Linked DNA regions of Homo sapiens. The protein of the gene in region 3 purifies or fractionates together with the protein of the main gene of each other region. This does not show direct contact. Each region holds a gene or a part of one and is shown on either strand. Other genes may lie near its edges.

Region 1 (7,980 bases), on a different chromosome or scaffold from region 3:
TGCAGCCAGCATCGCCCGCTATCAACGGCCACGGGACCCGCATTACCTCCGAGAGTTTGACACACATCTGCTCCTCCCAGCCTTCCTCTGGTGGAGATTCTGGAAGGAACACCCAGTCCGCACCGCAGGCCAAGGCACTCACCAGGGCCAGGTACCTATGTGGACAAGGCAACAGCATCAACACCCCAGAAGGATCCTTCCCACGAGGGCAGCCCAGGCACCCCGCTCAGCGACAGACGTGCAGACCTAACGCCAGGTATGAAGCGGGATGCCGGCCCCTTCAGGACTTTCCACGGGAGCATTCAGGATGTGGGGTGCAGCCTCAGGGAGATGATGCTGAGGGTCCCCCACCTGAACCGCGTCCACCGGACCCACCGCAGGTACGTACCCACAGTGTCGTCCCATCACCTCCAGAACGAAGGTCCTCTGGTGGCTGGAAGAGAAACAGAGGGAGCCCCGGACACAGCTCAGAAAGCAGAGAAACAGAGGGAGCACCCACTCAGTCCTGGAAACAGCTCAGAAAGCAGAGAAAAGGGGCTTTGACAGCCGAGTTAGCCAGGAGGCCTGCAGGGACCTAGGCTTCAAAAATGGTCCATTTTCTACTAAGGCAAACGCTATGCAGTAGCCTTCCAGACTCCTGCGAGGAAGGGGACTTGAGCCACCTCTGCGCTCTCCAGTTGCACGTTGGACACCTTCTGCCTGCCTGTGCCAGGACACACTCACACTCCCCGGCCCCGTGCTGGGCTCTTTCCCAGATACCTTCTCTATTGGGCACAGTCGGCAGCTGCTGTCGACAGCCACGGCTGGATCTCTCCCACGGAAACAAGTGAGTGCCAGACTCACTAAGTGCTTAATGCCCAGAGACTGTGGGTCTTCCCAGGGAATGGAAAAATCCAACTGCTCCGAGCAGCCTTCCAACTCGGTGATTTTCCACCAACTGTGGGGTTCACGCCCACGCACTGAGAATGTCCAGTGAGGCGTCACTGGGAACAGGACACGCACACAGAGGACTGGGAGGCGCCATGCTGGGGACTGGATTCGGGCACTCTCCCAGTCTCGAGCACCTCGTCCTTAAAGGGGAGACACTTATTCTATTTACCATTCCACATGGTTTTCATGCAAATTGCTTCAGAAATTGTACGGTGCGCCCCACAGTCTTTAGTGATAACCTGCTGAGCCTAGAGCACCTCGGATCAAACGCTGTGGCCCCCACGACACTTCGTGAATCCGTAGGTTACACAGGGCAGGACATCGCTGGCTGCGTTTCTAATGAGTAGTGTGGAAAATCCACACAACAGTTTCCTGCTTGCCACTCCTTCTGGAGATGTTTGGGTAGGACATTTAGAGGATAATTACTTTGTTTCTTCCTTCCAAATTCTAATAAACTGTTTTCTATCATCAGGTTAAAAACAAGGAATGTTTTAAAATTAAAAATGAAAAGTAGACCAGAGAACAATGTTCTGGCAATAGCTCCTAAAAGTCAAGTTACGAGACCAGCACCAGGACACCCAATCTGCAGAATGTTCTAGAGCCCGTGGTAACGTCTGAGCTGGGCACACGTCGGGCCCCACTGGCCTCCCGCCGGTTCCTCTGAGCGCTTTACCTCTGGGCCGTGGTCATGATGGCGTCGACGACCTCGATGATCCTGTGCAGGGCGGAGTCCGTGCCGATGGTCATGTCGGTGCCGCAGAAATCATTGTCGATGGAGCCCACCATGCCCACCACGTTGAGGTAGGCGTACTTCTGCACGGCCTCCTTATCGATCTGGCCTGCGCGGGGAGCAAACAGCACGTCTCATCGCCGTAACCATGGCGCGTTCGGGGGGTGCCCCACTAGGGGTGAGGCAGAATGGCCATGGGTAGAGAAATCAACCATTCTAAACTCTTTGTTATTGGTATCATTTCTTTATTATCATTTTTCTGAGACAGGGTCTCACTGTTGACCAGGCTGGAGTGCAGTGGCACCATCATAGCCCACTGCAGCCTTGAACTCCTGGGCTCAGGCGATCCTTCTGCCTCAGTCTCCTGAGAAGCTAGAACTATGCCTGGCTGATTTCTTAATTTTTTTTGTAGACCCACACTCTATGTTGCCCAGGCGGGTCTTAAATTCCTGGGCTCAAGTGGTCCTTCTGCCTTGGCCTTCCAAAGTGCTGGGATTATAGGTGTGAGCCACTGCCCTGGCCGATTCTTTATTTTCTCCGAACTCAAGGCAACCGGATTCTGCATAGTTAAGGAAAGAGAAGCCAGACAAAGCTGGCAGCAGTTACACACAATGGACTCTGTCACCTGGCACTTAGACAAGAGCAGTGGATTAGAAAAATAAAAGAAAGGATCCACATTTGCAATCGGTAAACAAACATCTCAGTACTTCCTGGCAACAGCTTCAGAGAATGACACGGCTTTGAACAGGATACGTTACAATTACGGAATTAAGAATCTAAGACACTAGGCCATCTTCACACTGATTTCTCATGCATCTGTGGGAAGCTGGATCGTGGGTGAGCATCTGCCTCGCACTCAGGACAGACCTGGGCTGGGCAGTTCTGCATAAAGGGAATCGGAACCACTGAAGGGCCAGGGGCAAGCTTGGGCCCGGACTTGTGGCCACTGTCCCGGTCTGTGCACTCACTGTGCTGTGCCAGACGGGATGAGGTGGACAAGCGGGAACCGTGAGGCCTGGCTGCTTCCAACGGGCAGCCTTCTCCATCCCCTACGAGGATGTTCACAAACCTGGGGACAGCTGCTTTGCCTCAATGCCGCCTCTCATCGAGTTGCTGTTAAACAATATGCTTCCCTGGTCATATTTAATATTGCACTGAAATTACATAACCGCTTCAAGGGAGAAAAACTACACTTTGGGAGGCCGAAGCGGGTGGATGACCTGAGGTCAGGAGTTCGAGACCAGCCTGGCCAACATGGCGAAACCCTATCTCTACTAAAAATAAAAAATAAATAAAAAAATTTTAAAAAAGCTGGGTGTGGTGGCGCATGCCTGTAATCCCAGCTGCTTGGGAGGCTGAGGCAGGAGAATTGCTTGAACCCAGGAGGCAGATGTTGCAGTGAGCCGAGATCGTGCCACTGCACTCCAGCCTGGGCAATGGAGAAAGACTCTGTCTCAAAACAAACAAAATCAAACAATCAAACAAAACAAAAATAAACCACATACACACAGGGCTCTCAGAAACGCTTTCCTAAGTAGTGCCAAAGTTGGTACTGGATGATGTATTGGCAGAGATTTATCGTCTAAATAAATTAAAGTCCTGTGGCAACTTCAGTTTTTTTTTTTTTTTTTTTTTTTGAGACAGAGTCTCGCTCTGTCGCCCAGGCTGGAGTGCAGTGGCGGGACCTCGGCTCACTGCAAGCTCCGCCTCCCGGGTTCACGCCATTCTCCTGCCTCAGCCTCCCAAGTAGCTGGGACTACAGGCGCCCGCCACTACGCCCGGCTAATTTTTTGTATTTTTAGTAGAGACGGGGTTTCACCGTTTTAGCCGGGATGGTCTCGATCTCCTGACCTCGTGATCCGCCCGCCTCGGCCTCCCAAAGTGCTGGGATTACAGGCGTGAGCCACCGCGCCCGGCCCAACTTCAGTTTTAAAGGACCCCAGCGAGCTGGAGGGACACAGTGTGAGGGCTGAAAGGCGGATGCTAGTGTCCCAGGCTGCTGGGGACCCGGCTCGCCCCACGGCTGAGTGGCCGTTTGATTCCTCATCTGTAAATGGGATGATCTAAAACCTGGCTTAGATGGCTGTCGTGAGGATTCCATAAAGCTATCTGTGTGAAAGGTCGAAGGGTGCCTGGCACATGGTAAGGTTAAATTACTAGCATTCTTACGATCATTGCTGTTGTTTTTTGAGATCCTAAAAAGTCCTGAGATGGTGACCTGTAAGATCTGTGAGAAGAGGTACTTCTGCCACAGTGAAGAGGGAAACCTGTCGGTTCCAAAGCTCTGAAACAGGGCGAAAACCCGCAGGACAGAGGAGCAGGTGTCCACTCACCGTTCCTGGCCAGCTCCTCCAGCAGCCCACTCCACTCCTTCCGGAAGAGGTTGGCCCCGGTGAGGCTCCCGTCCCCGCCGATCACACACAGGTTGGTGATGCCGCGCTGCAGCAGGTTGCAAGCAGCCTTCAGGCGGCCTTCCCGCGTGCGGAAGGCCTGGCACCGCGCACTGCCAATGATCGTCCCGCCCTGGGAAAGACACCAGCTAATTTATCTCCTCTCAGTCTGAGAGAGCGCCAGGTGGATGGCACACACAGGCCGACTATAAACATGGGGTGCTAGAATTTACATTTTTCTCATTTTCATCTTGTGAGTTAGTAACTAGCTATGAAAGACTGTGATTTTCCTGTTTTTAGTCCCAGACCAGCATTCCATGGACAAAGACAGGCGCGTGACACCCAGGAGGAGCCAGGGAGGGTGCAGAGCCAGACACACGGCAGCCAGCAGTTAAATACATGGAGCAGGAACCAGCCTGCGGTGTCACAGCAGCCGCCTCAGCACCGGCCAACGAGCTCAACCAGGTGCACGTGGAACCAAAGACAAGCCCACTGACCACCAGAGCATGCCGGCCAGGACAAGGGAAGCGGTGTGACCAGCAGCCAGGCTTCTCCCTCCAGTCACCCCTTACAGCACCTGCAAGTAAAACCAGCAGGAACCTGGGGCCAGGGGGATTTTTTTTTTTTTTTTTTTTGCACCACATACTCGCTGCCCCTTTTAAAGAGCTATATCTTCAGGATCTTAAATTCTTTCATCCAAACTTCCAGGGGACATAGATCATGATTCGTCACACTTGGTTTTCCAAAAACTAAGAATTGTTGGTGGGATCCACAAATGCAAGATTTCTTTAAATAAAACCATGAATGCACCAAAAAACTCCATCCGTACGGGATCCCTAAGCGCGTGCTGACTTTGTCAAGCAAGGTGCTCATAAGCACAGCAGGGGTTGTCTCTGCACTGGAGGCGAAGCTCTCCCTGCCTTCGGTCTGCAGGCAGCTCCCAGGAGACCCCTGCAGTGACGTGAGTGCGTGTTTCGATACACCAATGGTGCACGCACACAGCTCATTTTCACACACAGAGACTCACTAATATTCCAAATCCCAGAAAAGCTCCTATTTTTACATGAAACCTACCACCATTTAATTTATCAAAACATTATGAAAAGGTTACAAAAACTGAAATTCACTCCACACGATCCTACGTCACTGGCACCAAGTGTGACCGAGACCATTTACAACCCAACCCCCAAGGCAAGTGAGGGTGGGGGCGCAGAGCAGGGCAGGGGTGCTCTCTGGACTCTGCCTGGACAAAAACCTGGGGGGCAGCACGAGAGCCAGCACAATGGGAGCTAGAGCCAGCAACCCAGAAACTCCAACCAAAGAGACGAGGTGGCCGCAACTCAGGAACGAAACCAGGATAACTGGGCTGCAGAGGAGTGGGTGCCATTCCCATTCTCTCACTCACTCTCTTTCACACACACACACACACACACACACACACCACACACCTACACATACAAGGACACCACATATACACACACCCCACACACAGATACACATTCGCTAGCCAGAAATTCACACAGTTAACACATACACACGGGCACACCACACATACACACTCAGACTCACACACCTACATACAGACACACACCAGACTCACACAGTTACACACACACCGAGATTCACACACCACATACACCACACACAGAAACACAGACTCACTGATACACATACGCACTTCAACTCTCCGTTCACATCTTATCTTCCTCCGTCAATCACGACCGCAGAATGGAAACGCTCCCCTGTGTGAATTCAGCCCACACTCTCCTGATGTTTTGCAAACGTTGCTCCACCTAACTTCCGTGGTTGTCAAAATTCCCTCCACCTCTCTTCTGATGTGTCGGAGCTCAGGAGGCGCCCAATGCAGAGAGAGCCTGGACCAGCACGAAGGTGTGGGCCCCATGAGCGTCTTCAGCGGGGAGGCACCGATTTGGATTATTTCTATTAACAAGTACTCAAAGTGACTCACAGATTAACACATGCATTTCTAAAAATCAAACCACAAGTAAAGAGCTGCTCACAAAGTCTGTTCTGTCCACATAATCTCTATTTCGCAACTGATCTGAGCTCAAGTGTTCTGGGAATTTACTAGACATAAAAGAGTCTCTAACTCAGAGAACCCTGTGGACGCAGCCCAGTACCTACCACTTGCAGGATGCTGGAGACACTCTCCCAGTCGGCCTCTGCGATGTTTGAGCCTCCGTCCACCATGCCCTGGTAGCCCTAGGGGAGAAAGGGAGAATCTTTTAAAAATGAGATAAACTTCACTAAATGGGAAGTGATCCTTAAATTATATAAAACGGGAAAAATGACAGTGAATGTCAGTTCCTCAGCATCCACTGGTCAGAAGACAGGGCAGTTCCAGCACTGGATAAAAGCAGTGAATTGTGGGAAAGTCCTCACCTTGAGTCCCTAGTAATGGGAACGTCTGCCTAGACTCAGCCTCACAGTGCAATGAGGAATCAAGCCATTCTCCTATGGCCCAGCGTTTCCCGAGAGGTTGAAAGGGTCGTGTTTCGCTAGAGGTTGAAAGGGGTCACTTTCACCCAACGTGTTTATCATACTTCAGCACAAACTCACAGGCACACAGCACTGTCGAGCACGGGACATACATGGGAGCATTTTGTCAGGGGCTCCGCCTGCCAAGGCACCCTGCGCCACTTGGGATGTATGTTGAATATTATTAAACAGCACAGCTGAATAATAATTGTCTGCCTTACCCTCCATTAATGACACGGTGCTGCATTAGGGAATCAGATATCAATATGTGAGGACACATTGATAGAAGAAGCCCAAGGACAATTACCTTTTTTTTTTTTTTTTTTGAGACGGAGTCTCACTCTGTCACCCAGGCTGGAGTGCAGTGGCGCGATCTCGGCTCACTGCAACCTGCCTCCCGGGTTGAAGTGATTCTCCTGCCTCAGCCTCCTGAGCAGCTGGGATTACAGGTGCCTGCCACTGCACCTGGCTAATTTTTGTAGCTTTTAGTAGAGACGGGGCTTCACCTTGTTGGCCATGCTGGTCTCAAACTCCTGACCTCATGATCCGCCTGCCTCAGCCTCCCAAAGTGCTGGAATTACAGGCGTGAGCCACCGCGCCTGGCCAACAATTACCTTTCAATGCTAAATGCATCCCCATCTTTTTCTCCACGGAATATACAAGATCAGGAAATGCAGCAATGCCCACGGGTAACTTCATCTACATAACTCACTTTCCACAGCATTTAATCTTAAGAAGGAATAACTATTAAGGATTTAGAAAAGTTCATGATAGATTATTGTTGGATCCATAAGCCCACCTTAGTGAAGGTCCGGAGGACAGAAAAAAGAAAGGTTTTTAAAATTGAAATGACTCATAGATTATGGAGTTCTATATATAAATTAATCAATAGTGCAGGCACCTTGATAGCTGGCCAATTTGTATACTTATATTTATAAATTTCTACCAGAAATATTATATATATATGTGTGTTTATTTTATTTTATTTTTGAGACAGAGTCTTGCTCTGTTGCCCAGGCTGGAGTGCAGTGGCACGATCTCGGCTCACTGCAACTTACATCTCCCAGGTTCAAGCAATTCTCCTGCCTCAGCCTCCAGAGTACTTGGGATTACAGGAACACACTACCACATCTGGCTAATTTTGTTTTTGTTTTAAAGTAGTGACAGGGTTTCACCATGTTGGCCAGGCTGGTTTCCAACTCTTGACCTCAAGTGATCTGCCTGCCTGGGCCTCCCAAAGTGCTGGGATTACAGGCGTGAGCCACCATGCCTGGCCACATGTGTGTTTATAATTTAGTGTCATACATGTAATAAACAAGAAAGGAGAAAACAGTCTGGAATGGAACAGAACCCAAAACAGAGCTGGTTCATTTCAGCGCTGGCAGCCCCGTCTGCACCTCCCGAGACCCCCCAGGCACCCAGGCCCTGGCT
Region 2 (7,980 bases), on a different chromosome or scaffold from region 3:
AGGAGTTCGAGATTAGCCTGGGTAACATATTAAGACTCCATCTCTACAATCAATTGATCAATCAATACAAATAAAAAACAAGCTTCAAAAAGATCATTCTGATCAGCAAATAAATTAATTGCCTGCAAGAACAAAACTCAACACTCAACAGAAGAAATCAAAACCCAGAGACTCGACAGCATAACATCCATTAATGTCTAGCATCCAATAAAAAATTATCAGACATTTGAAAGAAAAAGAAAATGTAACCCAAAATCAGGAGAAAACTCAATCCCTAGAAACAAACCAAGAAATCACAGAGATAATGGAATTAGCAGATAAAGACTTTAAACTATTGTAAGTATATTGAAGGATTTAAAGGAAAACCAAGGTAGAAATTGAAGCCATAAAAAACAATCAAGGGGAACCTGCAGGGCTAAAAAATAAACTATCTGAAATTAAGAAGTTACTAGATGAGTTTAACTACAGATTAGACACCAAAGGAGAAAAGACAGTAAAGTTGAAGACAGGTCAACAGAAAATATTCCAAAGGAAGGACAAAGAGAAAACAGACCTCCTAAGTGTGTGTGTGTGTGTGTGTATGTGTGTGTGTGCTCAAAAGTCTCCCAATAGTATAAACACAAGGACTATCATGCATGAGTAAATCTTAATCAAATTGCTCAAACTAATGATAATAACTTCAAGGAACTGATATAACAAGAGAATGGGGATATTTCACACACAGGGGAACAAAGAATGTCTACTCACTTCTCATCAGAGACAGTGCAAGCTAGAAGACAATGGAATGATAGTCTTTAAAATGTTTGAAGAAAAACAAAAACAAAAAAAAAGTGTCAACCTGCAATTCTATATCCAGCAAAAATATCCTCAGAAATGGAAGATGAAATAAAGGCATTTTCAGACAAAAAAGCTGAAAGAATTCACTATCAGCAGATCTGCACTATAAAAAATATTTTAAAAAGATCTGCAAGGAAATATCAGATGTCTGCCTTCCACCCTATACTCCCCACTTCCAATCTCTAAATCCTTATTTCACCCCTTCTCATCCAGAGCTCCATATTCAAGAGCTGCTCCCCTTCTCCATCAGCTTGGTTCTGCCATCAAACAATTGTTTTCTTCGAACTCCATTAGTTAGCCTGGACTTTAAGACTCTGCAATCTTGCCCCTCCTGTCTTTACAAAACTTATTTTCTCTTACTCCATATTTTATAAGCCATTCCAAGTTGTTCACTTTGCTTCATTAACTAGAAAAAAAAACAAAAACTCCCCCACAGCCTAGGCAATACAGCAAGAAAATATTTTTAAAATTTAGCCAGGTATAGTGGCAGACATCTCTACAAAAAATTACAAAATTAACCAGATGTGGTGGTGCATGCCTATGGTCCCAGCTACTCAGGAGGCTGAGGCGAGAGGATTGCTGGAGCCCAAGAGTTCAATTCATATATTGCGCTATGATCACACCACTGCACTCCAGCCTGGCCAACAGAGTAAGATCCGGTCTCTATTAAAAAGTGTGCACGCACACACACAATCTCCCCCAAAACACGTCAGAAAGAGAGTAAAGGAGTGAGAAAAACAGAAGAGAACTCAAGGTGGCAGGGATTTGGGGGCACACAGGTGACCCATCCTATCAAGGAGGGAAGAGAGTGAATTTTCCAAAAAAACAAAGCAGGCCAGGAGGCTCGTGGCTGTCTTGCAGACACTACTACAACTCCCACACAAGAAGGGATCAGCTCCTCTCACTCAGACTGTAAGGAAGGACTGTATAACTAAGTTTAGAGCACCCACAAAACATAACTCCTAAAAAGTGAGTACAAGTACATAAAGCAAGAGGCTTGATTCAGGGAAACCTCATGTCATATTCAAGCTCTACTGCTCATTAGCTGCTTGACTATCGGCTCATTTAAAATTCACAACAGCTCTATGAGACAGGTACTATTATTATCACCTACATTTTATAGAGAAGAAAACTGAGACACAGAAAGGTTATACTGCTTGTTCAAGGTAATACATTCAGGAAGCGGCATAGCGAGGATGTGAATCCAGTCACCTAAAACAGACTGTCATTTCAGGTGTCCATTATACCTCAGGCATCATGAGCAAATCCTAGCAGTGCTCCTGCAGAGAGAAAAACACAAACAATCGAGCTGCTGAGGCTAAGCCTCTAAACACAGATAAAGTTAGGTCTTTGTGAGAGGAGTCAAGTGCTCTAATTTTGGCTCTGGATCTCAAATGGTTGTATGACTACTGACCTTACCAAATGAGGGAACTGACCTTAAGCCAACTGACCTCCCATCCTACATAACTGAAAGACTGTAATGCAGCAGTTTACAAACATGAAGAGCTAAATAAATACTGAGATCAAGAATTAATGTGTTACAAAGTAAGAATAAATTATGGAGAAACCCAAACACCAGATGTTACGCAAGAAAGAAGGAAGCTGCAAAGTAGAAATTCCCACCTGGGAAGAATTGGTGGTTCCCTAGGGACTTCAGCAGCACCAGCAACTGCTCCTGGAGCTTCTGCCTCCTGTGAACCATGGGCCATTTCCTTCACAGGGCCTGGAGGCTGCACTTTCTCTACTTCCTGATGCCCATCCAATTCTGTGGTGGAGTCAATCTCTATTTCCTGGACTGGAACTGGGACTGGCTCCTTCTCAGCTGCAGCAGCTGACACAGTCTTGGCCTCTTCCTCTTCCTTTCTTCTGATTTTCTCTTCAAGTTCCTGCCTTCTCTTCTCATCATCCTGACGGGCCATGTGGTCAAAGGTTTTGAATACCTAAAATCAAACACCAATCCAGCAATCAGTTCATCTGCCCAATACTGTACCACATATCTTGTAGAAATGTCGTAAAATCTGTGAAGGAGAGAACTAAAAGTCAGAAACTGACAAGTTTTCCCACTGGCAAAATGGAAATGCACTGCCACTTCACCAAAAGCTGACAGGTAAACAGTGTTTAACAGGAGGATTCCAAAATCAACAAAATCAGAAACTTATAAGCCAAGGCTAACAATATTTACATACCTAAAAGATGTACAGTTAGATGGTCTTTGTTGTCATTATTTTACAGACCCCAGTCTTGTTCACAATGCAAAGAATACACGGTCCTGGTACAACTGTGGGTTATAAAGGCACCAAAATTCAGACTCACAAATGAAACATGAAAATATGGCTGAACTTCAATTCCCAAAATGGAACCAGGTTTACAGGACTGCTGCTGTTTTTCACCACACTGCATGGACATTCAATTCAACAAACATCTACTATGCGCCTACAGTGTGCAAGAAACACGCACGCACAAAAAACATCAAAATGATTTCTGCTGCCTCCTAAGAACTCAAAATTCTGGTGTGTAAACAAGTTCTTAACATTTTCTGGGAAACAGTCACACCCATGAAGGTGCTGGGACCTCTCTACCAAAAAAGTACAGTCAAGACATACCCACACATGAAAACTCTGATACAAGAGGGGGCATGACAAGGCCCTCAATTCCCTGTCAGGGTATGGGTGGGAATGAGCATGTCTGGCGAAAGAAATCTAGGGAGACTTCTTGGAACAAGGAGGATCCCAGTTAGACCCTGAATGAGAGGCACATCTTCCACAGGGAACCACTGGAGGAAATGCCACAGCTCTAAGAATAGGCTTGTCAAGGAAGGGCAAAAGCTCTTGCAATAACTGGAGGAAGGAAAGGCTGAGACAGCAACCTGGGACATGGGTGGGAGTCAGATTCCAAAGGGCTAGAATGCGGACAGGTATTAAATAACAATGTTCTGTGCACTGCGCGGGCAGTCAAAAGGGTGCTAACAGACTAACTGTGTCAAATTATTTTACAAACATTCTCTCAAAACCCTCACAAAAATACTGTGAAGAAGACAGCATCAACATTTCAAAAATGAGAAAAAAATAAGGCTTGGAAAGGTTACGTAACTTGCCCCAGCTCCTGCTGGCAAAAGAAGTAAAAAACTACGCAGCACACACCAAACAGTGTGGGGAGATGATGATGTAGGCAGAGGGGAAAAAAAAAAATCAATAAAATCCTAAAAGGTTAAAAACTGGAAACAACACCAGAACCATTTTTACTTCTGCAGATAACCTGAAGCCCTGACTTCATTCTAACATTAGGGTCTCTACCGCTTTGAGTCCATGCTTTCAGAGTTGCTCATCCTGCTGATACTCCAGATCTTCATCTTAACTCCACAAAAGCAAAGCAACAAGATCTCTCTCTCCTAACACCTGAGACTTCGAACACAGAACCCCCAGACTTGATAGTCCTCACCATGCAGCTGCCTCTGCTCACTCAGTACATCCAGCCTTCTCTGACCTACCCATTCACACCACCAGGAAGTGCTACCACTGCCAACCTCCCAACTATCACATGTTCTCAGTACTCATTCTAGAGTCACAGAACATAGGGCTGGAAGAGAACTCTAATCTGTAACCTCCAATCAATCTTCTCAGCTGACAAGAGGTGAAGTGACTCTCCCAAGATTTCTCAACAATTTATGTAAGGAACAGGATGTAGCTAGCTTTCCTGATTCTAGTTTCAAGGACTTCTACAAAGGAGCACTTCTCAAAGTGGACTCCAAAAAAAACAGCATTATCGATTATAATGAATGGCTTGTCAGTCTAAACGATTTTTGTCTTAAAACATACTAATGTATTATAAAATGGAATGCAATTTTCACATACATCATTCCTGCTGAGGTTCTTCAAGCTGTGTATCCAGGCTATGCAAACTTTTAAAAGGAAACGTATGAGCTGCCTAACTCTACACCAACACTGTACTCCCCAAAATATTAAGGGAACGCTTTGAAGTTCCACAATGATGCAGCCCAGCACTCCCATCCAAATTCTTCTCTGCCTATATTCAGCAGAGACACCAAGCATCCCACATCTGGTGGGGGTGGAGAGGCAGACCCCAGGAAGGAGTCTTATGCCATCAAGTTAGGGACAGAAAAAAAAAAAAACCCTAAGAGGCAGATGAGTAGGAGTGGGGAGGTCAGGAGATCACCTACTACCACGAAGAAATAATGTTATGCTGGTACCAAGTCACTCAGTCTCATTCAGTGTTGTCCCACCCCACAATAAAACCCTTGTCAATACTGAAATCACCTTTACAAACCTCCTGTCAAATGAGCTTTTGTGGATAAAAGAACAGGTTCCAGCCAGGTGCAGTAGCTCATGTCTGTAATCCCAGCACTTTGGGAGGCTGAGGCGGGTGATCACCTGAGGTCAGGAGTTCAAGACCAGCCTGGCCAACACGGTGAAACCCCATTTCTACTACTAAAAATACAAAAATTCTCTAGGCATGGTGGTACATGCCTGTAAACCCAGCTACTCGGGAGGCTGAGGCAGGAGAATCACTTGAACCTGGGAGGAGGAGGTGCAGTGAGCCAAGATTGCGCCACTGCACTCCAGCCTGGACAACAGAATGAGACTCCATCTCAAAAATAAAAAATAAAAAAATAAAAAAAAGAACAGGTTCCCAGGATTCACCCTGATCTACCCAACCAAAATATCCAGGAATATGTGCTTTTAAAAGTTCCTTGGCCAGGCGCAGTGGCTCACACCTGTAATCCTAGCACTTTAGGAGGCCGAGGCAGGCAGAACACAAGGTCAGGAGTTTGAGACCAGTCTCGCCAACATGATGAAACCCCATCTCTACTAAAAATACAAAAATCAGCCGGGCGTGGTGGCGCACACCTGCAGTCCCAGCTACTCGAGAGGCTGAGGCAGGAGAATTGCTTGAACCCAGGAGGCGGAGGTTGCAGTGAGCTGAGATCATGCCACTGCACTCCAGCCTGGGCGACAGAGTGAGACTCCATCTCCAGGAAAAAAAAAAAAAAAAAAAGAAAGAAAAAAGTTCCTTAAGCGATGCTGATGGTTGAGAACCACTTCCAGAAAACATGACACCTCTCTTAAGCATCTGCTGGAGACTGTTGTCCCCTTGGTTTCTGTGAAACTTATTGCTCTCCACCAAGATTATTCCCCAAGGCCTGTTCTTCACCTTTGGCTCTTCTCTCTCCCTCGGACCACTCCAGTTGCTCTAGCTCCCAAAAGATCTAGTCCAGTAATTCCAATAGCCTATGGGCAGGGACTCCTACCTGCAACTTCAAGTTCAACCTGTCTAAAACTGAACTTTTTCCCCTAAACCCAGGTGACAGTTCAGTTAACGCATTATCACTATTCCAGTCACCCAAGTTGAAACCTTGGATCATCTTTGACCCATCCCTCCCCTTCCTCCATCCCTGCTCCCCATCTCCACTACTTCATTAGACTGGTCACCAAATCCTAACCTATGGAAGTGTCTTGTAAGAGGTGTTACCAGGTAAATGAGTTACCAGGTTAATGAGTGCTCTGTCAGTTCATCTGTGAAACAAAGACCAACCTCTCAGGTTATATTAAGGGTTAAATAAGATAACGACCCCAGAATATAAAACATCTGATACTATACATATTACTCAGTATATACTCCTTTCTCCTCCACATCTTTCTGCAAACTACAATCAATCTAGACAAAAGTGTTCTCATCCTACTATGGAATGGTTAAACAACAGAACAGGAAGATTTGGAATCCACAAAATGAAATTTTTAGTTTCAGCTCTACGGTGAACTGGCTGTGTGTTCTTGGTCAAATCACTTAACCTTGCTGAATTGGTACGTAAACTTGAAACTTATCTGTTTCACAGAGACACTGAAGATCAAATGGCAAGACTTCATTAACCTGCCATAAGATCCTGCTAAAGGCCACCTCCAACAGCTCTCTCATCACTAAGATGGCACTTATGCCACTGACAAGGACGAGGAATAGCCTTAAGTTCTGAAATTGAATCCTAATGGAACCCCATTCCTCGTTTGGCCCTATTACCCTGGTAGCTACCAAGACATTCAAAGCTTTGGCTTCTGCTGAGGAAAGTAACATCTTACCAACCTGCAGCATGCATTAAGACTTCAGGAGGAAACATCTGAAGCATTTTATAAACTGTAACATCTAGAGAACTGAGGGAGGTATCATCAGCATTTCTATCTTCTTGGGTTTCTACAAATAGGCTTAATACTTGGCTGAATAGTTTCTTTTAATCTCATCAGAAGTCCCACCTCTCTTATAAAAACTTCACTTCTCAACCATCATTTCTATTTCCTTTCTTTACAATGGGCTCCATCAAATAATTGCCCTTAAAAAGTTTTCTATTACTTTCTGGGTTTTCTCTCTTTAACTGTGTCACAAGGAGAGAGAAACCATTACTTAAACACCCGTATCACCCTCACCTGCGGCAACTAAGAGTGTAAACTACATTCAGCAAAAGGTTGCTTACCACTACATTCAAAAGTGCCCAGTCAACTTCACTGAATGAGTATTGACAGCGTTTCCAACATACAATAAACTTAACCTGGAGGGTACGGAATTAAGCTCAAATAGAAATTTTAATAAGCACTACATTGACAGTCTTTGACCTGGGAAGTCACATTTCAAACAAGCGACCACACCCATTGATCAACACAATGCCTCCGTCATCCCCGCCAGCTCAAGTCTTTGGTAGTTCTGGGGCATGCACGTTTCTGTTGCTGTAAATGTCCTTCCTTCTGTCTGGCCTGCATGGATTTCGCTCCCTGACTAGCGGCCCCCAGCACCGTGAGGGGTACGCGCTGGCGGGTGCTGAGTAGGGCTCTTAACAGTCGGCTTACTACTTCTGAAACCTCAGGACGTCCGGAGCGAACACCTCAGCGGAATAAGCTGACATCCAATCCGCGCTTCAAATTACTGAAGCCATTCTCACAAGCTCAACCCCAGGACACCAGGAAAAGGAGGAAACAGGCTGGGAGAGCTTGGAGGAGCGGGCGCCAGGAGTCAGGGCAGGCCGGGGGCGGCGGCTCCCCAGACCGCAGGCCCGCCCGCCTCACCTGCAGCACCAAGGCCTGCGCGGCCCCGGGCGGGAAGCCCATGCGGTCCGATGGGTGGCGCAGCAAGCGATAGAAGTCT
Region 3 (7,980 bases):
TCTGAGCTGGTCTCTAACTCCCGGCTCAAGCGATCCTCCTGCCTTGGCCTCCCAAAGTGCTGAGATTACAGGTGTGAGCGACCACACCCAGCCATGTTCAGTTTTTACACAGCCATTACGATCAACAGTTATCTCATTTGTCTTCTTAAAACAATTTTTAAATGTTGTTTAGAGATGAATGTTGCTCTGTTGCCCAGGCTGGAGTGCAGTGGTGCAATCATAGCTTACTGCAGCCTTGAATTCCTGTCCTTGGCTCAATTGATCCTTCCACCTCAGCCTCCTGAGTAGTTGGGACTACAGGCTAAAGGCCAGAATCACTGCCCCACCGTGCAGCCTTCAGCAGCTGCTCCTCTCTGGCCTCAGTGTCCTCTTAGTTCAATGGGCATCACCAGGTCCCTGTGGTGCCTTCCTTGTCACAGGCACTTGAGGGGTCAACAGGATCATCATCCAGCGCTGTTCACAGACGCAGACTGAGGCTGGAACCTCAGAGTCAGAGCTGGAGGGGGCCCTTTTGTGCAGATGGGGAAACAGCCTTGGAGAAAAGACTGGACTTGGTTCAGACCCAGATCAGGCTGAGAGAGAAAAGCAGCCAGACACAGGGCTTATGCACAAAGGTTGCACCCAGGTGCGACCAAATATGCCTTGGCTTAATGCATATTTGCTGAATGAAAAATAACATGACTGAGGCTCAGTGTCATCACCTGTGTAATAGGCAGCCTTGGATGATGCACGGAAAGTGCATCTGAATGAATAGGGGTCCTACTCAGGCCTCTAGAGCTGAGCTTCCTGGGGCAGCAGAGCCCGGCACAGCACACTCATTTTTGTGTTCTTCGGCTGAGGGGATGCATGCTGGAGTCTCGGCTGGAACCCTCCCCTGCCTCCAGCCAGGGACCATCTGATCTGTCACTGTGATTGACTGCTGGGTAGCTGGAGCTGTTTTCTCCCTCTCCCCTTTTTCCCAGCCATATGCAAATGATTTCAGTTGAAGTCATGCGCTAATGGAAATCCTAACACATTAATAAATGTTTAGTGAGAGAGCGCATGCATGATGGTAAGTAATTAGACACTCGACGGAGGAGTTCTGTTGGCACAACTGTCTGGCTCCCTTTCTTTATTTTCCTCCATCATCTCCAGAGAGATGCGGAGGGAGGCAGGGAGGAGGGGCGGTCTGGGGTGGGGCAAGGGCTCTGGGATGGGGCTCTAGCTCCGACACTTCCCACTGGGGGCCTCTGCAGCCACTCTCCTTGGGGTCTCAGTGTCTGCGTCCCTCCAGTGGGCATATTTGCCCTGCCCTGACCCCTGCACAGGTAGGTTGTAAGGAATCAATACTGCAGCACGAGGGGAGGGTGCGTTTCGGCATGGCATGACAGCCCACACCCTCTCTCCTGCCTGTGCCAGCTGTTCTTGGGCTTTTCATGAAGTGCTGCATTGCCACCTCTGGCAGGTGGACTGGGGGTGAAAGGGGCAGGGCCTTGGGGCTGGACACATCATGGGCCGCCCCTCCCAGGGCTGGAGGCAGCCCCTGGGCCCTGGCAACCCCCTTCCCAGCCCCACTGGAAATCATAACTCTTCCTTCACAGGGCTGCTGAGAGGCCTGAGACAGCATGGAACGTGGCTGGTGCCAAAAACGTCCCCCATACATGTGAGTTCTCCTTAGCTTCTGTGTGCTGTTCCTTCCATGCCCTCAAGCTGTTGGACTGGACACCAGTGATGCCTGAGGGAACAGACCTTGGCAGTCTGGAATCTCAAACGGAAACCCCCTGCTTAAGGAGCTGTTCCAAAGGGAAGAGTCTCCATTGGGCTGGGGCTGCTCTGTGGGGCTGGGGAAGGTGGATGGAAGAGGGCGGCTCCAGAGCCTGGACAGGAGCCTTGACTGGGCTACCAAACAGGAGCCTTTTTTTAAACTCCTGCCATCTTCTTTGGACCCACGTATTTTCTCTTGTCAAGATGGATCCCCATTAAATCAAAATAAATAAACAAAAAAACCCCCTGCTCCCCCACCCCTTTCTATATTGCCATTTTGATTAAATGTTAAGAGCACACAAATGTAATGTTCCTTTCAAATTAGAAACAGGTGCACTTTTGCATACGGAAATTAAGTTGCAGACAATAAGATGATTTGCTAAAATGTAGATGCTGATGAAAATAAGGAGCCCTTTTGTCATTATTGAGGCAATCTGTTGGCAAAATGTACATGCTAACGGTCTGACAGATCGGCGGACTCCAGCAGGCTGCCACGAACAACTCGGAGCCGTTCTGAAAGTAACAGATTTTTTTCCTTAGAAAATATATGTACATTCTCTTCCTCATCTCCTGGTGCTATTTACAAGGCATGAAATGCCATAAATAGGAATTCCGTGGTTACACAAGGCCCCCCCCACAAAACACAAACTTCATCTGGGCAAGAAACACATTCTGACAGTTTAACTCTTTATTCTCCTTCACAGCCCAGCAGACCCCAAGGCGGGCAGAGGGTGCAGGCCGTCCCCAGGATGCTGGTCATGGGCCAGGGTCATCCTTGCACCTGCGGCAGTAGGGGCAGCAGCCATGCTGAAGCACCAGCAACTCATAGTCCTCAGAATGGAACATCTAAGGGAAGACAGCTGTAAGACCAGGCTGAAGCCCTAGTGCTCATCAGCCCTACGCCTGGGGCCAGGACGCACTGCCTCTCAAGGGGAGGGGGCTTGGCAGTGGTCAGGGCTGGACACAGACCTGCAGCACCTTTGTTTGAGGGCTGGAAGGGGAGATGGGAGGGGGCTGTGGGGTTTCTTGTTTTCTGAGTGAAGGTCAAGGGCACATCACGCTTGCTGGGCCCCCAGGATTTGGGGAGGATGTGGACAGCGCAGGGGCCAGTGAAGTCCACTTTAGATGCACATGGAATGCAAGCAGGGGAGAGGACAGACAAGCCTCTGTCCCAACTTGGAGCCATGGATGTGCCCCTCCTCCCAGGGGCCACGCCTCCCAGAGGGACATTTGGGCAAGGGAAAAGTGGCCAAGAGAAGCACATGTGAGCTACCAGGGTGGCCACCTACCTGGAAGCAGGAGGGGCACATGGTAATGGAGGCGTCAGGCAGCAGTGAGCGGAAGTATTGCCACCTCAGGGGTGGGGGCCATCGCTTGATGAGGACATCCCGGCGGCTCATGGAGCGCAGCACCAGCCGGCTCACCACCACTGGCACGAACTCTGAGCCACCTTGCTGCAGGGTGGGCGGGAAGGAGGCACAGTGTCCTCACTCAGCCACAGTGAGACATCTGTGTGGATTATGATCCTGGAATCTTTGGCAGTGGTGAGAGAGGACCTGCTTCCTAAACCCAGGTGACCCTAACAGTGGCAAGCTCCTCCCACCAGAGCTGAAGCTGCCTCCCTGTCCACAGACCTGCGCCCTTGGCCATGGTCCCTCGGGGGCAGCCATGGCTCCCACACCCCACAGGAAGGGGTCCTGCCCCTCCTTCGTGCCACCACATCTGGAAGTTCTGGCCAATCCTCCTCCACCACTGCGCTAGCTGAGGGTCCCCATGTGCACAGGAGAAGGGATGGAGGCTGCCCTCCTGCAGGTCACCCAGAGAGGCACCCTCACCTCAAAGCTCAGCTTAGCTGTGAACGGGTCCTCATCTCCGATGGAGTCCTTGGTCTCCACTAGCCGCAGAATCTGGGAGCCTGGAGGGATCTGGTCAAGGATGGAATCAGAAGCAGAGATGGAGACAGACCCTAGCCTCCACCCTACACCCCTGTGAGAAGACTCAAGGGCAGCCAGACCAGTGGAAGAGTTTTCCAGGTGGAGGAACAGAGGGGGCTCAGGCCAAGGAATCAGAAGGAAGGGACTCTGCTGGCCCTGCTGCCCTCACCCATTCCCCTCGCAGGCCACACACACCATAGCTCCCAGGGCCAGTGGGAAGCACATGCGGGCCCTGTGAGCCACTGCGGGTAGGCACGGAGGGGATGGGCCCAGGGATCCTGGAGAAACATTCAGTGGCTGCTGGGGGTCTGCGGGCACTTGTGATGGAGCAGACAGGGGCGAGAGTCCCTGCTGACCCCAGGGCGGGTCAGACTCACCTGGAGGTCCCTGGAAACCGCCCCTCTCCCACAGTGGTGGGGCTGGTAACAGAGGCCAGCAGGGGTCCTGCAGGGAGGCCCAGGACATGGGGACTGCTGGTACCAAGTTGGAGTGGGCACAGCACCCACCTGCCAGCACCATAGCACATATCATCTGTGGCACCTGAGGGAGCCTGGGTGGCAGAGATGGGTCCGTCTTTCCTTCAGCAAGCAGCTCTCTGAGCTTCCCTCCTCCCAGTGTGGCCCCTGGGGGTGGCAGCACCTGGGAGCTGCAAGGAAGGCAGGCTTACAGCCCCCAGGCCTGCAGACTCAGTCAGTGCAAGGGAGCGAGGCCTCAGGCCACGTGTGTGCTGTTCCCTGCCAGAAGCCCCTCCCATGTCCAGCCTGCAAGTGTGGCCTGCCCTGGACAACTGCCCTGGTGCATCCTCCTGGCCAAGGGGCAGGCTGAGCTGTGCCCCGGGGCTTTCACTGCCACAGCTGAGAGGAAAGCTGGCTGTTTCTGGGGGCTATAAGGCTGAGGGGATGTGGGGCTGGCACTGCTCCTGACATCTCTGTGTTATGGGGGCACCACGGGGCTGCCAAAGAATGAAGTTGCCCAGAGGACAGTGCGGCCAAGAGAGGCAGAGCCAGCCTGTGACCGACCAGACTGAGCGCTGGGCCAGGAAGCTTCCTCTCCTGCTTGGGGCTTCCTTGCACACCCTTTGCTTGTTCAGCTTGTCAGTTTTGGACTCTGTCACTTGCATGCGAAAGTGACTTGAGTGGAAGAGCTGGGGGCCAACACCGACATCATGACATCATGTCCCATGTTGGCTATGCAGGAGCTATGCACAGACAGAGGCACAGCCAGTGCCTTTTAGGGGTCAGGGGAGGGTGGGAGACCCACACGGGAAGACCAAGGTGCCACTTGCCACTTCTGGGTCCTTAGGCCCTGGCCAGCTGTCTGCCCATCTCTGATCCCTGTCCCTGTCCCATGTGGGCCTCTCCAATCTCTCTGGGAACACAGGGCCAGGCTCAGCATGGCCCGCGATCCCCTGGGACTGGGCCCTCCTACTTCCCGCCTGTCCCCAGACCCCTCACACAGCCGCACACACAGGCTCTGGCCAAGGGCATGGATACTGTTGTTTGCAATCTCTAGCTGTCTGTCATCCCGCTTGGGTCTCAGCACCTCCAGGTCGATGAGGGAGATGGCTTCTTCATCAGTGATCCCTTCCTCCAGGTAGAACTCAACCAGGTGTAGCACGTCTGGAGGGCATAGAGAAAGGGCTGAGGGGGCTGGAGGCCTTGCAAAGGACTTGCCGCCAGGCAGGTGGGGTGACCACAGAGTTGCTTCTCAACCCACTGGCAGCTTCACCAAAAGCAAGAAGAGGCAGCAGGGGCAGTCTCTGTATGTGTGTGCAGGAGCAGTCTCTGTGTGTGTGTGTGTGTGTGTGTGTGTGTGTGTGCAGGAGCAATGTGTGTGTGTGCAGGGGCAGTTTCTGTGTGTGTGTGTGTGCAGGGGCAGTCTGTGTGTGTGTGTAGGGGCAGTCTCTGTGTGTGTGCAGAGGCAGTCTCCGTGTGTGTGCAGGGGCAGTCTCCATGTGTGTGTGCAGGAGCGGTCTCTGTGTGTCTGTGTGCAGGGGCAGTCTCTGTGTGTGTGTGCAGGGGCAGTCTGTGTGTGTGTGTGTGTGTGTGCAGGAGCAATCTGTGTGTGTGCAGGGGCAGTTTCTGTGTGTGTGTGTGTGCAGGGGCAGTCTGTGTGTGTGTGTGTAGGGGCAGTCTCTGTGTGTGTGCAGGGGCAGTCTCCGTGTGTGTGCAGGAGCGGTCTCTGTGTGTCTGTGTGCAGGAGCGGTCTGTGTGTGTGCAGGGGCAGCCTCTGTGTGTGTGTGTGTGCAGGGGCAGTCTCTGTGTGTGTGTGCAGGGGCAGTCTCTGTGTGTGTGCAGGAGCGGTCTCTGTGTGTCTGTGTGCAGGGGCAGTCTGTGTGTGTGTGTGCAGGGGCAGTCTCTCTGTGTGTGTGTGTGTGTGTGTGTGTGTGTGTGCAGGAGCAATCTGTGTGTGTGCAGGGGCAGTTTCTGTGTGTGTGTGTAGGGGCAGTCTCCGTGTGTGTGTGTGTGTGCAGGGGCAGTCTCTGTGTGTGTGCAGGGGCAGTCTCTCTGTGTGTGTGTGTGTGCAGGAGCAATCTGTGTGTGTGCAGGGGCAGTCTCTGTGTGTGCACGCAGGGGCAGTCTCCATGTGTGTGTGCAGGGGCAGTCTCCATGTGTGTGTGCAGGGGCGGTCTCTGTGTGTGTGGGCAGGGGCAGTCTGTGTGTGTGTGCAGGGGCAGTCTCTGTATGTGTGTGCAGGAGCAGTCTCTGTGTGTGTGTGCAGGGGCAGTCTCTGTGTGTGTGTGCAGGGGCAGTCTCTGTGTGTGTGCAGGGGCAGTCTCTGTGTGTGTGTGTGTGTGTGTGCAGGAGCAATCTGTGTGTGTGTAGGGGCAGTCTGTGTGTGCACGCAGGGGCAGTCTGTGTGTGTGTGCAGAGGCAGTCTCCGTGTGTGTGCAGGGGCGGTTTCTGTGTGTGTGTGTGCAGGGGCGGTCTCTGTGTGTGTGTGCAGGGGCAGTCTCTGTGTGTGCAGGGGCAGTCTGTGTGTGTGTGTGCAGGAGCAGTCTGTGTGTGTGTTCAGGGACAGTCTGTGTGTGTGTGTGCAGGGGCAGTTTCTGTATGTGTGTGTGTGCAGGGGCAGTCTGTGTGTGCGTGTGTGTCTGTGTGTGTGTGTGGCCTCTGCTCAGCTCCTGGGAAGGGGCTTCTGATCCTCTGTCAACATCAAAGGAGCTGGGCCTTGATAACCTATCTCAGCCTCCTGGTCTGAATGCAAAGCCATCGGACTCTCTTTCTGGGGCATTTGGTTATGTAAAGCCCTGCGCCAGGTTCCCAGAGTGGGTGCTTCAGCTTTGGGCAGCAGTGGGTCCTATCTCTGGGAACACCGACAGTGACTCCTTGTGTCAGGTAGGTGGGCGTCAGAGTGTCCTCATTTCATAAACAGGGACATTCAGAGGCCTTTGGCCCTTGCCCAACGTCCTGAGGCCAGAGAGCAGTGGAGTGAGCCTGGCTGTCCACAGGCTGTCCCACCCACATGCTCAGGATGCAGGGACTCACCGTAGGAAGAGGCGGAGAAGATGAAGGGCTGGCGGCAGTTGATGCAGACGTTGCCCAGGTTGTTGAGCAGCGGGTTGTTGGTGGAGCAGCGGTAGCACAAGGGCACCAACTCCTACAAAACAGCCACGGACTCCCGAGGGGCCGGGGCAGGCACGTGTCCTCCTCCCCCTGGACTCTGGCTTCAGGCCCCTGGGGCCTGGCTGCCAAGAGGAAAGGCCACCCGGGTGGGCAGGCAGGGAAGGGGCGCCGGGCCCAGGAGCTCCATGCCATGGGGAAGCAGGATAAAGGCCTGCCGAAATACCCAAGCCCTGTCACTTGGGTCCCCGTGCCCAAGACACCTGCACAGGCAGCGCTCAACGGCACTTTTCCCCTGGCAGGAATGACAGTGGCCGCTGCCACCATTAGCCAGCCATTTACCATGCTCCGGGCACCGTGCGGAGCACGTGGACTATACTGGCTCATTTAGCCTCACAACTACCTGTGGGAAAGGGGGAACCCAAGGTGCAGAAAGATGGAGACAGAGCTAGGAGAGGGTGGAGCCGGGATGTGAACCCAGGTCTGTCTGAACCAAGTCCTTGCTCTGAGCTTGAGGGAGGATGTGTGAAAGAAGGAAGCTGGCTGGGTTGAAGGAATGTGGGTTGGGAGTGTGGGGTAGATTTGCTGGAGAACTACAGCCTGGTTCCAGAAAGGGCAGAGGTTTCTAGAGTAAGAGTCAGCTCTGGGGCCAGGCCTGGGGTAAAGGCAGAGCCACCTGGGCACAGAGGTGTGGGGCTTGCCTAGGGGAGGGCAAGGAGCAAGGGAGGCCAGGCTGAGGG
Region 4 (7,266 bases), on a different chromosome or scaffold from region 3:
TCCACCCAGCGTTCACAAGGGTTTCCCACTGACAGTGAGAAAAAGCTTACATTTGCAATTGGTTCCTTGGAGGTTCAGGTGAACTGGGGGTCTTGGTGGGCAACACTGCTCTCCTGGGGCCTAAGTGGCCACATCTGCCCACAGGTGCAGTGAGTGGGGCCCGTGCACCATGGAGAGGGCACCCCCAGCATATTGCTGGCAACTGCAATGGCCCCAGGATGGGGCACGGCCCCTCCTGCTTGAAGCTGCCCAGGAAGCTCAGGTCTCCTTGTCCTGGGCTTAAGGTCACAGGTCCAAGAAAGCCCTGCTGTGTCCATGGAACCGGGTGTGGCGTGGCCACAGGAGGCTGGACACTGACCCAGAGCTCAGGACCCCCAAGGTCTGTAAGGCAGCCTGCAGCTCGAACCACATCCCCAGGAGCTGGGCTCCCCGCTCCACACAGTAGTGTCGCGGGCGGCACAGGGCAGCCCATGAGTGGCCACTGCTCCTCCAGTACCAGACTGGAGCTGGCTGGGGCCTCTGAAGGGCCAGGTGCCACCACATACCCAGCTGTCCCCCCGCCTTCATGTCCAGCACAGCATGGCCTCAGCTCACACCTCCCACCTCTGGGTGCACGGCCCTCAGCACAGGGCGTCGAATGCTGCTGCAGCTATGATGGTCCCTGGCTGTGGCCTGGGGCCACGGATGGGGAAAGACAGAGTCCAGGCCACCGAAGGTTGGCTCCAGGGAATTACAGCCCCTTAGAGCAGGGCGTGGGACCATCCTCCCACCACCTGCGCTGGCCGTGGCTCTGTGAATCTCGTTTGCCTGGGAACCAGCCCAGGTGCCAACCCGCCCTCTCGGCCCCACAGGGGCCCCTGGGCAGGTGGGCTCAGGGCAGAGGCCGGTCACATGGGCACCACAGGGCAGACTGAAGAGGACACACTCCCGGCTTCCCTGAGCTCCCACTGGGAGAGCCAGGACACAGCCTGGGCCCCCACACGCCACAGAGCAGGACCCCCACCAGCCGTCCTAACACACCCCATTCTCTGCCCCATCTGGGGCTAGGCCTGCCCCACTGCACCCAAAGACCTTGCCATCCTCCACCCAAAACCCCCAGGCGGCTCTGTCTCCTGCCTTAAATGTCCAAACCCCAAACTCAGTGGGCACGTCTGCTGCCCCCTGACCCCTACTCACAAACGCAGCGCTGCCCTCCGTCCTCCCAGAGCCCCTGCCCGTTGCCACCTGCCAGGAGAATCACCTCGAACCGGCCATGACCTCCAACCCTCCACGTGACCCAGCACCAGCCTCCAGCGCTCCAGTGGAAACTGTAACCACAAACCTAGCACGCTGCTGTTGTGTTTTGTTTCACGCCCAAAGAATGAAGCTGACCAAAAAAGGCAACTATATTTAAAGTAAATGTATGTGATTCTTGTCACAACAAATATTTGCATTTTCTCAGCGGCAGCTGCGGGACCTGGGTGGCTCCGACACGCCAGGCCCGGGAAGGACCCGGCACCCTCCCCTGAACTTCCTGGCTACTCATTTCCAGCGAAGTTTAATCTATTTTTAATAATCGTTCAGTTTTCAAGGAAATGGAGGAGCTGTTTTTTCCCACGGAGCGGCGGCCCTGGGAGGGGCCGGGCCCAGAGGTTCCGGCCGCGATGCCGTCAGCGCCTTCGGCAGAGTGACTGAAGCGAGATTTCGTTCTCAGAAGTGAGATGCCACGATTTCGAGGGACCAGGGAGGAGGCGGCGCCGCGGGGCCACAGCCCAGCCCCGCGCCCCGACCGCGTCACAGCCAAAGCCCCGCCGGGGTGCGCGCTGCAGAGGGGACACGCCGCTCATCAACTGGGGCAGCCGCGGTCGGTCGGCCGGTGGCGGGCGGCAGGGAAGAGGTGGGGTCCGGGACAGCCACGGAGCCCGGAGTCACCCGCGAGGCCGCCCCGGTGGTGCGTGGGGGGCGGCGCGGGGCGCGGCCGGGCGCTCAAAACTCCTCGTGCACGCTGCGCGCGTAGTCCACCAGCTTGCTGCCCGTGAAGAACTCGCTGTACTTGAGCACCTCCTCGGGCTCCAGGTGGTGGTTCTGGTTCTCGTCGGCGACGGCGATCATCTGCTTGGCCTCGTTCAGCGCGTTGTACTCGTTCATGGGGTCCATGTAGCTCTGCGGGCGAGCGGGGCACAGGTCAGCGTCGCCTTTCCCCCTCCGAGCTCCGCGGCCAGCCGCACGAAGTGGCTATTTAAGGTGCCTATTGGCTGCAGCGGGAGTGTGGGCACGTTCTGGAAGGTTCCCGAAGGGAGGCGGCACAAATGAAAACACAGGGCAGGGAGAAGCCGGGGGCCCCGGAAGGCCTGCCCGGGGCCAGCAGGGGTAACGGGGCACAGGGGCTACACAGGCCTGGACCCCAGTTCTGAAGGATCCCTAACCTGGGCCGGGCCCACTGGCTGTCGCCAGGAATCACAGGATTCTACATAAAAACAAGATGACTCACTCAGCAGTGGGAGAAAAACAAGCCTACACATGATACCAGTGAAAACGCTTCAGAGGAAGGTGGTAAATTCCAGCCATGTGGCACAGGCCGCCCCGCCCACCTGCACCTGCTGGGCCTTGGACCTGCCTCCATGCTGGGCCCAGCATGAGCTTCCCCTTGTGGTCCCGTTAAAAAGGGGCTGTGAGAACCCTGACGCCTCCGCAAGGGGCTGAGGATGGAGCCCGGCCAGGCTCGCCTGTCTCTGATCCGTCTGAACCTAAACGCCAACAACGGCCATGCAGCCTGGTGGACACCGCTGAGCAAACGCCCCAGTGACCAGCCCAGATGGAGTCTCAGGCCAGACACCAGCACAGCTTCCTGCCTCAGGCCCAGATCCACCAGCCCCTCCCGCCACAGCACCTCGCAGGGCCGGCTCCGGGACACGGCTGCGCCAGGGCTCACCTCCAGCTCCTCGGCGGTCACGATGCCGTCGTGGTTGGAGTCAATGAGCTCCTCAAACTCCTTTTTTCTGTCTTTCACCCAGTTGTCGTCAATGTCCTGGCCCTGCTGGTTCTCCACGGTGCCCACGGGCAGGGAGATGAACTCGGGCACAGAGAGCTGCTTGTCACCGTCCTGGTCTGCGAGACGGGAATGGGTCAGCCCACACCCAGGCTGGGGCTCCCGCAGGACCTGCCCCGACCTCCCGACGATGCCCGGCCCCTGCCAGTCGGTCCTGGGTCCTGGCGTGCCGGCCAGGCTGGACCCAGCCTCACCCAGGTCCCGGACGATCTCCTTCACCATGAACCTGAGCATTCCCCGGCTGTGCTCGGGGTGGAGGAACGACAGGAACTCCTCCTCCGTCAGCAGCAGGTCTGCAGGGGGGCTGTCCGCCTGGTACCAGCGGTCCTTCAGGTTCTCCAGGACTTCCTGTGCTGAGAGGGGCGCAGCCTGTGGGTATCGAGGCCGACAGACGCCAGCACGCAAATCCAGAAAGTTCCGAGAGGTGCTGCCTGAACTCGAGGGACACAGCCACCCGCGAGACCGGGGCCCCACCCTCCAGGATTCACACGTCCCCAGAACATGGCCCAGCCCCTAAGACACAGCCTGGACCCCCGCCAAGACATAACCCAGAGCCTCCCACAGGCCTGATCCCCAAAGGCATAGCTTGGACCCCTCCACACAGCCCGGACTCCCCAAGACAGCCTGGACCCCCCCCTGCCCCAGACCCCCAATACATGGATGGCCCTGACTCCCCACAGACACAGCCCAGACCCCCAGGACATGGCCTGGACCCCCCACACAGCCCAGACCTCTCAAGACATGATCCAGAACCTCCCCATGGCCCAGACCACCCCAGGACACAGCTCAGAGCCCCTCATGCCTGGGACCCCTCAGGATGGGCCTGGGCCCCACCCCCCACACCCGCGCCTGCCCCTCTGGAGGAGCGGAATCACCCTGAAGGCTGACGTGCGCACGGCGCCGCGGGGCGAAGGACTCACTGCCCTTTTCCGTTTCCTTCACGTGTGACGTCACAGGGAGGAAAACACAGTTTCTAGAAATGACTGAGACTGGGGCTGAGCAGAGCTTCCCAGGAACCCTCCCAGCCGGGACACGGCACTGCCTCTGGGTGTGTGGCCCCCGCTCTCCTGCCGTGCCCACCCGGCCCCAACGGGCCCTCACCCCGAGGTCCCCACACATCCCAAGGACCCAAGCCACCCTGGGTCTCCAGGACAGAAACACCACCTCCTGCCCCATCTTGGGGCTCACTGCAGTCAGTGGCCAAGTCCAGTGTTGAGGCCCACACTCAGCCCCCTGCACGTGAGGCCCGACTCTGCCCTGGCCGAAGCCCCTGCCACAAGCCCGGCAGCCTCTGCGTCGCGCTCACTGCGGGATGAGGCCCAGCTGCCGTCCCATCTTATCCCTTTCTGAACAACCTCCATCTACACGACCGGTTCACTTAAAGGAAGACAGGAGTGACGGGGCTGTGGTTCCTGGGGCACCCCTCCCTGTCTGCTCCACCGCAGCTCCTGGGATGGATGGACGGGGCCAAACTGAGACCCATCCAGGAGAGGCACAGACGCCCCAGACAGGCCGGCCGAGAGACGCTTTCTCCAGCACAGGATTCTCACAGCCGCCGCCGAGCCCCAGCACCAACCTCAGGCTGGTGAAGAAGCCTTGAGTCCCAGTCCCTCCCCACGAGCCGGGCCTCTGCTGTTAGGGAAGGATCTGGAGAGACCCTCCTGGATCAGGGAGAGTCAACGACTGCTGTCCCTGTGAGAAGAGGACGCAGACCCAGAGAGAGGCAGCGATGGAGGCGGGGGAAGGGAGTGATGCCCGCCTGCCACGCCTTCACCGCGGTCCCCAGAATCAGGTCTGAGGCGCGAGGACAGCAGCCCCCGGACTCACGCGGTGACCCTCGCAGGAGCCATGCAGGGAGGGGTGGGAGGTCGCAGGAGTGACGCCTGCCAGCGCTTCCCAGGCCCCTCCTCCAGGACCCGGCAGCTGCTCTTCCTGAGCCAGAAACCAAATACCCAAAGAGGTCGGGGGGTCCTAGGCACCCTGAGGTCGGGGAGGCCAAGACGGATCGGACACGGGTGGGCAGGGAACAGCACCTCAGCATGCATGGGGACCCCCAAAACGCAGAGTGAATTCTAAACACACCTCTGCTGAGTCCCAAAGGTAGACGGAGGCTTCACAGAAATGTCACAGAGCTCTAGGTCCAGGTGGGCCATGTCCTGGGCAGAAAAGACCCAAATAAAGTGGCACCAAGGAAAGACAGACACAATCAGAGTTGGGGGGCGGGCACGGGCAAGGCCTCCTGCCCCAAGCACATCGCCAACAGGCCGGACCAACGGGATGAAGCTTAAAGACGCAGTCAGGACAGCAGGGAACGCGGGACCGGGGTGGAGGCACGAACCGTGTGTGGGGAGGAAAATGTAAACCACTCTTTTGGAAAGGAAGTAATAACGTCCAATTTGGCCGGGCACTGGGGCTTGTGCCTGTAATCCCGGCATGCTGGGAGGCTGCGGCAGGCAGATCCCTTTAGCCCAGGACTTTGAGACCAGCCTGGGCAACACAGGGAGATCCTCTTACTTTTAGTTTTTTTAATGTCCAATTTGCAGGATTTAGAACGGACAGGACCAAACTCCAGATAAGAGTACGTGAACTGGGAAAAGAGCAGGCAGAGCCAACAGGCTCAAAAGTCTCCGCGTCATTCTAGAAGGTCAAGGCCAGGCACAGGGGCTCATGCCTGCAACCCCAGGATGGGGAGAGGCCAAGGCAGGCGGGTCACTCGCGCCTGCAACCCCAGGACGGGGGGAGGCCGAGCGGGTCACTTGAACCCTCTGAAATCCAAGAGTTTGAGACCTACCTAGGCAACATGGGGAGACCTTGTGTCTACAAAATATATGTTTTTGAATCAGCTGGGCATGGTGGCACACACTGGTGGTCCCAGTCACTCAGGAGGCCGCCCCCATGGGGGCTGGTCACATGATATGGGCCGTTCCTGGCAGGAACGTATCTTACACCTTTATTTTTCTGTCCTCCAAGGAGGATAGATTGAGCCCAGGATGTGGAGGCTACAGGTGAGCTGAGATCGCACCACTGCACTCCAGCCTGGGCAACAGTGAGGCCCTCACTCTTAAACAATTAAAAATTAAAAATTAAAAAAAGAAAGAGGCTAAGACTAGGCGCAGTGGCTCACGCCTATAATCCCAGCACTTTGGGAGACTGCAGTAGGCGGATGACTTAAGTCCAAGAGTTTGAGACCAACCCGGCCAACACGGCAGAATCTATCCGTACAAAAAATACAAAAATTAGCCAGGCGCGGTGATGGTGCCTGTGGTCCCAGCTTCTGAGGTAGGAGGATCGCCTGAGCCCTGGAAGGTACAGCTGCAGGGAGCCGAGACTGCACCACTGCACTGCAGGCTGGGTAGCAGAGTGAGACCGTCTCATGAAAAAAGAAAGAAGAGGTGGTTTGCCTTGAGACTCTGGTGAGGAAATGTGTGTTACTGATAAGTTAAGCAGGCACAAAAAATAAAGGTGTAAGATACACCCAGCCTGCCAGGAGCAGCCCCGTATCACGTGACCAGTCCCGTGGGCGACACGGGCGCCCTGCAGGGCAGCAGAGAACCCACCCCAGGATGCCGGGCAGCGACGGAGCAGGCGACTCTGCACGTTCTCCTCAAAGCCCCAAACCAGACCACGGGCATGACCGGGAAGGGCACACGGAGCCCCAGGGTGGCAGCAACGCCACGGTACCCGCTCAGCTGTGCCTCACAACTGGGCCAGCAGGGGCTTCTGCCTGGACGGCTCTCCCAGACCTGGCCCCGTGCAGGGTGGCCCGGCTCTCCCCTCACCTGGCCTTAGCCCGGGTGCCGGGCCCCACCCGGCCCCACCCTCTTCACGCAGAGGCACCAGCTTGGACCCGCCCAGGGCTGAGGCTGCCCTGCTGGCCAACGGCCACACCCCAGACCCAAGGAAGAGCCTCTCCCTGGGACCTGACCGCTCTCTGGTGACCACCTGACGGCCACACAGATGTCTCCAGCAGACCCAGGCCTCAGGGCCAGGCCCTCAGGCACAGGCTGTGCCCTCTCCCCAGGAAACTCTGCCTCACGTGGCCTTCAGAGTACGGGGCAGGCCCCAACCCAGACTCACAGCCTCAGATTCTCTGCAGGACCTAACTGAGTAACGGCCGTGAAGGTGCCGTGACCAGCAGAGCTGAAAGCTGCCCAGGCACAGCTCACACGCTCCCCACCGGACTCCTGGGCGGCGCCTAGGTCAGCAACGGCTTCACCCACTTCCCTCCTGACAGCCAC

What was found.
Region 1: the proteins of IFT122 (region 3) and PFKP purify together in Homo sapiens (affinity purification with mass spectrometry; one large-scale study listed by BioGRID and IntAct). This does not show direct contact.
Region 2: the proteins of IFT122 (region 3) and NUDCD3 purify together in Homo sapiens (affinity purification with a luminescence readout; one large-scale study listed by IntAct). This does not show direct contact.
Region 4: the proteins of IFT122 (region 3) and SDF4 purify together in Homo sapiens (affinity purification with mass spectrometry, with the first as the bait; one large-scale study listed by BioGRID). This does not show direct contact.

What each region holds. Positions count from the first base shown.
Region 1 is NC_000010.11:3,097,568-3,105,547, reverse strand, and holds part of PFKP (ATP-dependent 6-phosphofructokinase, platelet type), read right to left. Parts: intron 6,274-7,980; coding exon 6,196-6,273; intron 4,628-6,195; coding exon of another isoform or gene 4,548-4,627; intron 4,184-4,547; coding exon 3,994-4,183; intron 1,770-3,993; coding exon 1,604-1,769; intron 940-1,603; exon of another isoform or gene 434-939; coding exon 389-433; intron 156-388; coding exon 47-155; intron 1-46. UniProt on the Homo sapiens protein: Catalyzes the phosphorylation of D-fructose 6-phosphate to fructose 1,6-bisphosphate by ATP, the first committing step of glycolysis.
Region 2 is NC_000007.14:44,482,508-44,490,487, forward strand, and holds part of NUDCD3 (nudC domain-containing protein 3), read right to left. Parts: coding exon 7,902-7,980; intron 2,778-7,901; coding exon 2,461-2,777; intron 1-2,460.
Region 3 is NC_000003.12:129,514,785-129,522,764, reverse strand, and holds the end of IFT122 (intraflagellar transport protein 122 homolog), read right to left. Parts: intron 7,278-7,980; coding exon 7,166-7,277; intron 5,297-7,165; coding exon 5,171-5,296; intron 3,659-5,170; coding exon 3,579-3,658; intron 3,198-3,578; coding exon 3,033-3,197; intron 2,590-3,032; coding exon 2,500-2,589; 3' UTR 2,258-2,499; downstream 1-2,257. UniProt on the Homo sapiens protein: As a component of the IFT complex A (IFT-A), a complex required for retrograde ciliary transport and entry into cilia of G protein-coupled receptors (GPCRs), it is required in ciliogenesis and ciliary protein trafficking.
Region 4 is NC_000001.11:1,215,547-1,222,812, forward strand, and holds the end of SDF4 (45 kDa calcium-binding protein isoform 2 precursor), read right to left. Parts: intron 5,185-7,266; coding exon of another isoform or gene 5,153-5,184; exon of another isoform or gene 3,388-5,152; intron 3,382-3,387; coding exon 3,223-3,381; intron 3,088-3,222; coding exon 2,912-3,087; intron 2,259-2,911; coding exon of another isoform or gene 2,143-2,258; coding exon 1,966-2,142; 3' UTR 1,385-1,965; downstream 1-1,384. UniProt on the Homo sapiens protein: May regulate calcium-dependent activities in the endoplasmic reticulum lumen or post-ER compartment. Isoform 5 may be involved in the exocytosis of zymogens by pancreatic acini.